3 linked regions of the Homo sapiens genome follow. The protein of the gene in region 1 interacts with the protein of each later gene in a pairwise test. Each region holds a gene or a part of one and is shown in the gene's direction. Other genes may lie near its edges.

Evidence for each region.
Region 2: the proteins of PKNOX1 (region 1) and FAM110B interact in binary tests that used the Homo sapiens proteins (3 or more experiments, as listed by UniProt).
Region 3: the proteins of PKNOX1 (region 1) and PBX3 interact in a two-hybrid assay, tested with the Homo sapiens proteins (2 studies listed by BioGRID and IntAct).

What each region holds. Positions count from the first base shown.
Region 1 is NC_000021.9:42,972,682-42,976,433, forward strand, and holds the start of PKNOX1 (homeobox protein PKNOX1), read left to right. Parts: upstream 1-1,880; 5' UTR 1,881-1,983; intron 1,984-2,459; exon of another isoform or gene 2,460-2,594; intron 2,595-3,752. UniProt on the Homo sapiens protein: Activates transcription in the presence of PBX1A and HOXA1.
Region 2 is NC_000008.11:57,997,446-58,001,197, forward strand, and holds part of FAM110B (protein FAM110B), read left to right. Parts: intron 1-3,752. UniProt on the Homo sapiens protein: May be involved in tumor progression.
Region 3 is NC_000009.12:125,750,348-125,754,099, forward strand, and holds part of PBX3 (pre-B-cell leukemia transcription factor 3), read left to right. Parts: intron 1-3,752. UniProt on the Homo sapiens protein: Transcriptional activator that binds the sequence 5'-ATCAATCAA-3'.

The sequences.
Region 1 (3,752 bases):
GACTACAGGTGTATGCCACCACGCCTGCTTAATTTTTTGGTATTTTTAGTAGAGATGGGGTTTCACCATATTGGCCATGCTGGTCTCAACTCCTGACCTCAAGTAATCTGCCCGCCTTGGCCTCCCCAAAGTGCTGGGATTACTGGCGTGAGCCACTGCGCCCGACCCCTTTTAGGCAATGTAGGGTATCTTCCAAACGTTGCCATGGCATTTGAAAACTGTCATGGCGCTGGCGAGAGTGTGTTTTACCAAGCTCATATATTATAATTAGTGTATAATCAGCAGTGAGGAAGGCCACAGGTCACTTTCCCCGCCATCTTGGTTTTGGTGGGATTTGGCCGGCTTCTTTACTGCATCCTGTTTTATCAGCAGGATCCTTGTGACCTGTGTCTTGTTCCGACCTCCTATCTCATCCGATTACTAAGAACGCCTTAACTCCTGGGGGGTGCGGCCCAGCAGGTCTCAGCTTCAGTTTACCCAGCCCATGTGGAGTCTCTCTGTTCCAACACCTATTGACACTTGCATCTGGATCTTGCACTAGGCTCTGCAGATTATGCTCAGTCTTGAATACTGAGCTTTTTTTGTCCCCTTGAACTTCCCTCCTTGGGCAAGTATCTCAGGGCCTCCCTCTTGCCCACCCTGCTGCTTCCCATCTTTCTGAAAGAGGCGGCTCTGCAGCTGCACAGCACTTGGCCAAGACCTCCTGGCGGTGTGGAGCTCTGAAGACACAGGAGGGATGTCCTCCGAGCTGTTCATGCCTAGACCTACCCCCAGGCTCCCTCTAGCAATCAGCTCCAGTCCTGGGCCTGTCTGCCTTCCGGGAGGAGTGGGGGCCCACAGAGCTGCCCTTCCCGCGCTGTGTATGGACTCAAGGCACTGATGGCCTTCGGTGGGCCACTGCATAAATGGATGTTTCTGCAGTATTGAAGGCCAGTCAGGCAAACCGTGTGCTTTCCTACGCAGTGGGGAATGTGTCGCCCTTTCCTTACATCTTGGAGACCAAAGCCACCATCTGCACTTGTGGGTACATTGTGGCAGTGGTCGGTTAGGGTGGTCTTTCAAAGCAGTTTGAAATGCAGACACTTGTGGGCGTCCCCTAAGGCAGGTGCCCTTTACCTGGAGGCCGCATTGGTCACCTAGACCCGCAAGGCTCACCTGGGCCGGAAGGTGTGGTCAAGCGAGGCCAAGTAGCCCAGAGGCCACCCCTAAGCACCTGTGGACATCATGAGTCCTTGCTGGGGTCCTCACAGAGGGAAGACAGCCCCCAGGGTAAAGCCTCAGGTGCTAAGCACTCGCGCTGCCGCAGGGGGGGAGGCACGTGAGCATCCACTGTGCCGCCCAGGACGGGCCCACCCGGGCTCCAGAGCCTGGGGAGGAAGGCTGCGAGGCTCCCACGGGCTTACATTCAAACCGGGCACACACAGAACGGAGGCCTTCGGCTACGGGACGCCCGGCGGTGGGGTTACGGATGGTACAGCCCTCCCTCCCCGCCTGCTCGAGGCAAATGGTTTCGCCCGGCTACACACACCTCTCCTGGGCGGCAACCGAGGGCGCGGAGGGGGCAAGACGTGCGCTGAGGCCACGCCCCTACTGCATAGTCATAAGGCGGGAGGCTCTGCCTTCGGGGCGGGGCAGACAGCTCCTCGCGCTCGGGCGCGGCCGGTTGGGGGCACGGCCTAGCTCCGGGTGCGGGCGGGGCTGGAGGCGGGGCCGGCCACCGCCCGGTTCCCGCCCTCGCTCTCCTCCCCCAGCGATCAGGCCCCGCCCCGCGCCCGCCGCCGCGCAGGGAGGGGCGGGGCCCGTCTCCGGCAGGCCCCGCCCCCTCTCTGAATATTGATGCGGCGCGCGTCGGCGTCGCCCTCCTCCCATTGAGCGAGGCTGTGTCGCGTGGCCCAGCGTCGGCGTGACGGTTGGACGCGGGCGCGGCACTGCGGGTCCCGATTGCTGCAGCCGCTTGTCAGTGTGATGAAGATTGGCACCCAGGTAAGCTGTCACTCAACCGCTCCGCCGCCGCCGCCGCCGCTCTCGCCGCCGCCGTCCCTATCAATCACACCGGCCCGCGGCCGCCGCCCGCCGCCGCCGCTGCCGCCCGGGTCTGGAGGGCCGGCGCTGCCCTCGAGGGCCCGCATTTGACCCGCCGCCCGGGGCAGGGGGCGGGGAGGGGGCGCGGGTGGGGGAGGGGAGCGGGCACCCGCGGGGGAGGGGGCGCCTTCAGCCCAACCGGCGCGGGGGCGCGCCCAGTTGGTTTCTTAGTGTGGGTTGAGGGACGCGGAAATTTCTGGAAGGCGCCGCCGCCGCCGCGCTGGGCCTGATCGAAGCGCGCGCTCCTAACCGTCCCTTTCGGAGTGCGGCGCGCGCCCCGGCGCGGGGCGGGGGCGCGCGGAGCCCGGCGCGGGCGGGGCGGCGGGCGTGAGGGTCGGGGGCGCGCGGCGGGGCGGGGCCGGGGCGGGCGGCGCGCGTGGGGCCGGTCGGGTCCGCGGCCTCGCGGAGTCCTCAGGGCCGGCGGGGCTGCTCGGAGGGTGCGGGGCGCGCGGCGGCGCAGGCGGGAAGATGGCGGCCGCGACCCCGGCCCCGGCCTCGGCCGTGGCGAGCGGGTGGGTCGGGGTCCTGGGGGCGGTGGGCGTGATGGGGCTCGTGGCCCTCAGCCGGGCGCCGGCGCGGGAGCAGCCCAGGGCCGCTCGCTGACGGCAGTGTTTGGGGCCGGGTGCTGGGGAAGCGGTTCCGGCGTCCCGGGAATTGGTGGGAAGAGCCGCTTCTGTCACACGGGTCGTGGTAATGGATGACAGGAAGTGCCGGGCAGGGTCTGGGCGCCCTGTGGGTTTGCACCTTCCTTGTGAGGGAAATCGTGTCACTTAACGAAAAATGAAGAAACGCGGAGTCTGCTTTATGTCATCCTCGTGGCTCTCGAAATGCCTTATTTGGACAGTGGCTCTGCGACGGGACCAGTTAGGGCCTCCGTTCCGATGGCGGATTCCTGACGGGAGGCCCGAGGGTCCGGGAATGGCGGCGTCCTGAGGTCGGGCCCAGGGCAGGCCAGGCTGAGCGCCACGGCGGGGCCGCAGCCCTGGGGGGTGTTCCACCTGTGTGTGGGGTTCTCTTCCAACTCTACGAGAGTTTGCTTTTTAAAACAGTAGATGATTTTTCCTTAGGAAGTGGTTCCTCTTCAGGATGAAAGAAACCCCCAGCTTTAGTTAGGTCTACTTTCATGATTTTTCCTGGCATACTGAAAAATAGGCTTTCTCTAAACATAAGGAAGAATCGAGGTGAAATGTGAACCTCTGCCAGTATAGTTATTGGTGATGCTCTTGCATTTAGTCATAATTTGGAAGATGGCAGGCTGACCCCAATGAGCCTTTCATCACTCTGCTTAATTTACTTAGAGTGATTTGTGAATCCTGTCCTTGTACACAGGCGTACCTCAGATAATTCGAGTTCTAATCCAGACCACCGCAGTAAAATAAGTATTGCAGTAAAGCAAGTGACGCAACAGTTTTAGGTTTTTCAGTGCATATGAAAGTTGTAATTACAGTATACTACTTAAAGTGTGCAATAGCAAGCATTATATCTATAAAAATGTGCTTACGTTAATTAAAAAATATTTTAGTGCTAAAAATACTAATGATCATCTGAGCCTTTAGTGAGTCCTGCTTGTTTTATACTTTGACAATCTGGCCTCAGTGTGGATGGCTGCTGACTGATCAGGGTGGTGGTGGCTGTGTCAGTTACTTAAAATAAGACAACAGTGAAATTTA
Region 2 (3,752 bases), on another chromosome or scaffold:
TCCCATTGTAGAGTCAGATTGATCAGCTGAGCCTAGAGATCTCCAACTAATCTGAACTTTTTTTCATACTTAACTTTTTAGGAGAGAGAAACAAATGATCAGAAACCTACTTGCATCTTGAATTTATTTAAGAAAACAACTTCCTAGGGCCAATTCTCATTTACTTTGATTTGCATCATTCTTCTGGCTCCTGGTATGATGCAGTGAGAATTGATATTCAGGATGAAGACTGAAGTGTTGCAAAGTCATGACTCATCCAAGAAAAATACATTCATTCTATTCAGTACAGACACCAAGGCTAGAAATCTAGTACACTCAGAAAAAGGATTTTCTGGTTCATAATAACAGTTATCTCTAAGGGCTGGCTCTGGGACCAGCAAAATCCTCGATGGTTGATGGTGGGTGTGGTGTCTCCTCTAAGAGAGAGTAGGTGCTGTTATCCCCTTTCTATAATACAAGTGAAGGGAAGTGACTTATCTGAGTCACATAGCTAATATGTAGCAAGGTGTGTGTGTCTCCAGACCCCATGAATCTTTCTGTCATGCCAGGAGGAATAACTTCTGCCTTGTACATTCAGTTGCTGGAAGTGTTTGTGTTTCATACCTTCTTTTCAGGTTTGATGTCAACAAATCTCTTCTCTATAACTCATTGACATACTTTGAATTTTGTGGTTAACATTTGATTATCAAAGAGTCTAAAATGAGAAAAGGTACGCCACTTTTAGTTTTCAGGGGAAACCTTTTAAGATTTCACAATACCTTGTTAAAGATCACTTGTTTTAGGAAGGTTGAGGAGAGAGATGGCACATTTAGCTTCTTTGAACTATGTAGACTCTGATAAAAATGTCTTAGATTTAGAAGTAATAAAGAATGTTGGGTCTGTTTTTGGCTTCGTTGCTCAGGTGTTCTGAGAGCAGCACAGCTCCCCCTATGCCAAGTGACTTTCTTTCCCTTAGGTTAAAGGAGGTTTATTCATTTTGATCACTTAAGTACATCAGAGGGGATTATGATGATTTTGGAAACATTGAATCAAATCTTCATTTCATATATTCATTTATTTTATTTTAGACTTTAGGCAGAGCCTAATATAATTTTTTAATGTTGATTTTTTTGTACTGAAAACATTATAGAAATACAAAAATGTAATATTTGGGAATTGTTCAGAAGAAAACACATATTATACCCAAAGTGTTTCTCAAAGAAGCTAAATGTAGCATTAACTCTAGACTTTGAAAGGATAAGTTATGGGATGATTTGCATGAAAGATTTTGGGGAATAGTTGTAGGAAACTTAGTTTTTCATTCTTTGTGAATGTTAACATCCAAACGATTACAGATAATTAAGATATAAGGCTTCTCCACTGTTGCAGAATTCTTTTTCATCCTGTTTTAAAACAACCTGAGTTTGTTTCTGAATGATCCTTTTGTAATATAAAATTAATGAACTTAAATCATGCCTATGTCATTTTGACATCTTAGATTTCCTTATACTTATGGGAAGAAGGGATTGAGTGAGATTTTTACGTTTTTCACATTTTACAGTTCGTCTCATAAGGAAACTCCCATAAGAAACTGGCATTCAAAGACATAAGCCTTGTTTTTTGTTGTTGTTGTTGTTGTTTTAAAGGAAACTTTAGTAGGTGAAGCAAATTACTTTCTTTGCTCAGTATGTTTGGTGATAAAAATAGTGAACATGTGGATGATTAAACAGTTTTAAACCGGCATTAAATCTATGACTTTAAAATTGTAAACACTTTAGAGAGAAGTTCAAAAATGAATACCTAAGCAAAAGGAAACAGTATGTCATTTGGTAGACAGGTTTCTGGAAGAATCAGAAGAATTCTGTGGTATGTTTTATACATCAGGGCAAGATCAATGGGTTTTGAAATTGTCCAGTTCCAGATGAGGCTTTTAAAAATACAATTCACAGACATATGGGAAATTTTTGAGTGGTTGTGTTGTAATGCAAAACATTTTTTTCCTCACAGCCCCATTAGAAGTTTATTTCATCTTTTTAATTTTATTTTTTAGGAGGAATCACATATAGCCTTCAAAACGATCATTCTCGCCAGTGATTTTTTTTTTGTCCCATTAACTGGAACTTAATATAAATAAAAAATAAGTAATTATGCAAAAGAACATAGTTTACTAAGTTCCTCTACTATGATGATTATATTAAACAGATATTGATAGAGGACGTATTGTGTGCCAGGTACTTTGAATAAACATCAGTCAGGAAAGACAAGGTTCCTTCCTCTTTGAGGCTTTATTGTGTAAAGTGGGAAAATAGATAATAAATTAAATGAATAAATGAAAAGCGAATTTAAGGCAGTAATAAGTGCAGTCGAGAATGGGGGCCACTTTTCCATCTGGGCTTGGTGGTCTGGGAGGGCTTTACTGAGGACTTTAGAGCTGACTTCAGTGAAAAGAAGGCAACATGTTTGGGCATGTGTGGGACTAAATATATATACACATCCATGAATGTGGAGTGTCTACAAAAGGGTTTGAAGATAAGTCTTTGCATTTTATTCATCAAACTTCACCGAAGGACTGTAGTCAACAAGCAAAAACTGTGCAAGATTAAAAGCCTGAAGAAGAATACACAAATATTCTTATTTATAAAACGAGTATTTATTTTAAAAATTCTTATTTATAAAATGACCTCTGCAAGGTCTCTGGGCATTGAGGATGGCCCATGCAAAGGCCCTGTGACAGGCAGAACCTGCCCTTGTGAGGAACAGGAGATAGCAGCCAAGGAACCAGGTCAGCAGGGCCTTATGGACCACAGCGGAGTTGGGGTTGGGGTGGAGTGTTTCCATTTAGTTTGAGTATAGGGGAAGCTGCCAGATGGATGATGGATGATGGATGGTAGATTATTGTCTCAGTTTCTGCTAAGTTCTTTTATGTTACTTATGATATCACATCTCATTGTAATGACTTTTGTTAGTACATTGATTTTGATGCTGTTTGTATTTTTCAACAGGAAATCATACTCATTTTAGAAATAAGAATATTTGTGTATTCTTCTTCAGGCTTTTAATCTTGCACAGTTTTTGCTTGTTGACTACAATCCTTGGGTGAAGTTTAATGAATAAAATGCCAAGATTTATCTTCAATCCTTTTGTAGACACTCCACATTCATGGATGTGTATATATATTTAGTCACACACGTGCCCAGACATGTTAGTCAGTTTACTTTCTCTGGCTACCACGGGGGCCACCATTTCTACTCTTGGTCAAAAAGAGACATTTGGAAATTGGGCATTCAGCAATTTTGGGAAATACCAGTGAATCCTGATTACGCTTGTGTGTTTTTACCACATAGTTAAAACAAGGTGAGAGTTGGGAGGTTCATTGTACAGTTGACTGTGAGTTGGGGATTTAAAAAAAATTCCTTTAATCTATCCCTAGCCAGTGTCCTTTCAAATGATCATTTATTGGAATGTTGTGATTTTAAAATCAGATTTTTTCCCCCCAATACATTTTATTCTTGTTTAGTGACAATGATAGAAGAAGAGAAATCATTGTGTGGGTTGTTAATATGACTAGTCATGGGTGCTCTTCACAGCTTCTGTTGGCTTTGTTCCAACCTGCAACATGCACCCGGGTGTGTAACCATAAACCGTTTTATAATGTTTTGGTAAAGTGGCCACAGTTTTTGCGGGGATAGACTGCCTGCCTAGTAACTTAGTTCCTTAATTTAATGAAGATTTTTTTTTCTAGTTCTTCTTAGTGAATCTGTATGTTCCTCTCT
Region 3 (3,752 bases), on another chromosome or scaffold:
GCCTAGCTAGCTTGAGAACTAAACCCAGCAAACTGCTTTTCATGTTGAGACATTTAGCAGCAGGCAGAATTCAATTAGGAAGCATAAGTCCTTTAGTTGCTTATTTGCACAGGACTTAGTTACACCATTCTGAAAGGAAAGTATAGTCAACCACATGTCAAAGGTGAGTTACGAAAAAGAAACAAATCTTTTCAAAGTCTGGGATTACTGGCAGAGAGAGCTTTGGTAGGGCTATTGCTATTTAAAAACCAAGAGGCAGCTGACAAAAGAAATTTTTGTGTTTTAAAATTGTTTCTGGGGCTTTCAGTGATAACTTGTAAATTAGATTCTCTTTTTGTGCTTTGGCCAGTGGATCCACATTTGCACGTTATCTCTTTTGTAAAAAGCCAACAGCCGACAAAGAGTAAAGGCGGCTGTCTGGGTAGAGGCATCTTCCTGCTAGCCTCTCTAAGCTCGAGAGGGATGGGATTTAAGTACTGAGTGATTGATGGGGGTGAAGCTCTTTCTCTTCTTTCCATTCTCCCCTACTACCCATAGCTTCACCTCACTCTCCAAAACTAGTCTTAGAATGAGACAGGGACTCAGAATCCTCAATTCGAAATAAAACAGCTGTGTAGACATTAGTGTTACCAAAGCAAAGAAAGCGGGGCTGCAAATTCCAAGCCCCCCCACTCCTGCTTCCATAGTCGGTCATGCTTTAGAAACATGAACTTATAAAAGAAACATTGTAGAATATATGTATATTGCATAAATATTTTTTAAAAATCATTTTATTTAATCTAATAATACCTAAAAATTAATTCTTTGTAATTTAGAGAAAGTTTACCTAGTCATTTATGAATAGAAACCAGAAACATTATGTTGATGACTCTATTCTGCTTAATGAAGGGGGTTGAGGGTGAACTGTCATTTCAGTGGATAATGTCATTTCAGTTGTGCTTTTCTTCTAAAACAAAACAAAATCATTTTAAAAAAAATCTGTTTATTTGTAGCTCTGCCAGTGGATTTTGAGGTTTCTGATCAGGCAGTGAACACTGCCAGTTCTTATGCACATGGGGGATTTAGTTTAGAAAACATCTGTTTCCCCCTCTACCATATATGAAAAGGTATTTTTCCCTTCTGACAGATAAATGGGTAATCTACTACAATTATATTATTTTCTTGTTGAGAGGTAAGGAAAGTATACTTCTACTATAAGATGCTGCTTTTTCTTGAGAATATATTCTTTCGTAAAATTGATCATACCATTATTTTTGGGCAGAAATGTCTCTCATTGTTGAATTGTGATATTTGTGCATTTTGAGAGCACCCAAAAAGTTGTAGGCTTTAAAATAAAAATAGTTGTTTATTTTAAACCAAGTAACCAGTGAGATTATTGTTGATATGTTAAGATTTTTCTCCTGATTTTTAAAGCCATATTTTATCATCTGTCTCTTATTAAATATCCCTGATGCCACAAGGTCTGCTCACCTGCATACCTCTTTTGGTGTATGCCCCCACCTCTTTTTGGTCATCTTAATCTTAATTGTTGAAGTGCTTTCCTTTGTGAAATATTTCATCCTGAAAAATCTTGTCTTCTTTCCAAAGCCCTTAATTGTGCGAGTTTAAGTGAAGGAAATAGTTCTTTTTCAAGAAAAAAATATTTATTTTTTAAATGAAATCCCACATTTTAGTAGATAATATGAATCACATTATTGTGAAAAATGTTATGCATGAAAAAAAATAAACACAACCTTTTCCTTTTCAAATAATAGGTTAAAATACTCCATGTTGATGGCTGCCAACCAAACTCTGATTTATTGCCACCACAAACCCTAAATAGCGTTCATTTACTAGTAATGTCTAATGGCATACATGATGGTTTGCCAGATTTGTAGCCTTTGTGAGGCTTATAAGTAGGACTGACTTGGGAAGATCATAAAACTTAATGAACTTCTCTACTGCAGGAGGTGTCCGCAGGGGAAGAGAAAGGCCTGCTTGGTTGGTTGGGCTGGTTGAAGTATTTTTTATGTTTAAGGAGAAGAAAATGACTAGTAAAAATGCCTTACTTTTAAAGGAACCCTCCCTAGAAAGAGTCATAAGAATTTTAGATATTAAAACTAGATCAAGAGTATAGTTTACAAGTGAGGTTTTATGTGCATTTAGTATATGATGTGAGATTAAACCTTTTATCTTTATTGCTAGAAGTGTGACTAGCTTTCAAAGAGACAAGGCAGTACTGTCATTCGACACCTCTCTATTTAATTGTGAACCCACAGGTTTAGAGACTCTTTGGAGTCTTTTTTTGGTGTGCTTCTCTTTTTAAGGTTTCAATATAAAAATCTGTTACATTTTTCTTTGTACAGTGCTGTGTGATTCTTTTAATTCTACATATGTAAAAATCAATTTTTTCAAGTGAAAATTTAGCAAGAAAGGTGAAAATTGTTATATATTAGTCTAAATGTTATTATATATTTTGCATATGCTTTTAAGTTGCTCTTGCACTATTTCCAATATAATTATCATCTTTTGTTTCAAGTTTTAAAAACAAATGCACTGTTCCATACATGATTCCTTTTTGTGTTTTCATGAAACACATTTTGTTTTAATGAACTTATTTTCAAGATTTTAACAACTTTTTATTGTGGACACCTTTGAAACATAACATGCAGAGAGCAGAGACTCTTGAACCTCCCATGAACTCAGTGCCCATCTTCAGCAATTAGCAATACTTGGCCAGTCGTGTTTTCTCTGTAATTCCCACCATTCCAAAATTATTTTGAAGCAAATTTTAATGGTTCTTTAATGTTTTAAGTTTCATATCAATTTTAAGCATTAGGTCTGCTTATATTGGAAATATTAAGTGATTAAACAGGAAAAATACAAAGTCAGAGTATCTTGGAAATGTTATAAATTATATTGCTTTATCAATATATTTTTCTTAACTTAATATTTTACCTTTTTTTTTTTCTATTTTTATAGATTTGGTATCTTACTGGAGCTTTTGTAGGAGGTTTTCAGAGAAGTTGTAAAAGAAAGGGATTTTTCTACTTCTTTATTCTTCCATTTCCATCCTAACAAAATAGCACATATAATACATTTGTAGAAAACCTGGAGAAAAATCTCATTGCCAAGCTGGTTTAGAACCTCATGATCTAAAGTATCATGTGGATATTATCTTTAAAATATAGAGACATTTTCCAATCCTGTTCTTTATTTTTTTCTTCCCAATAAAAATGTATTGAACTCTCTTGTCAATACTAACTTGATCTGTGCAAGTAATTCTTTTGTTCCTTAGTTTTAATGACCCTCATTTTATTACAGATTTGAATAGTTTTGGTATTTTATTTGGGACTTTACTATGTTATTTTATTAATTTACATAATTTTATTCTGAATTAGAAGTCTTTTAATACACTAGCAAAGGAGGCCCCGACTTGCCCCAAAGAGCACACTGGTTGATCGGCTTTCATAAAATGTACTTGTCTACATTTTTCATACTATGATGCTTTTCCTTTTAATTAATTTTGCCTGTATATTTCCATCTCAATTTATAAATTTTGTAAAAGGTTACTTCTGAGGCAAATTTAAATTAACGTATTAGTTGGATTATTTATATTTTGATACTTTATAGTGGCATGGTATAGGATGAAGTTACATTATATGAAGTGGGACTATAAGAATTGAAACTGCATTTCGTGAACCACACCCTAAGTCAGTCATCACTTTATTTTGTACTCTACCCTGAGGTATCTATTTAGAATAAATGCTTAA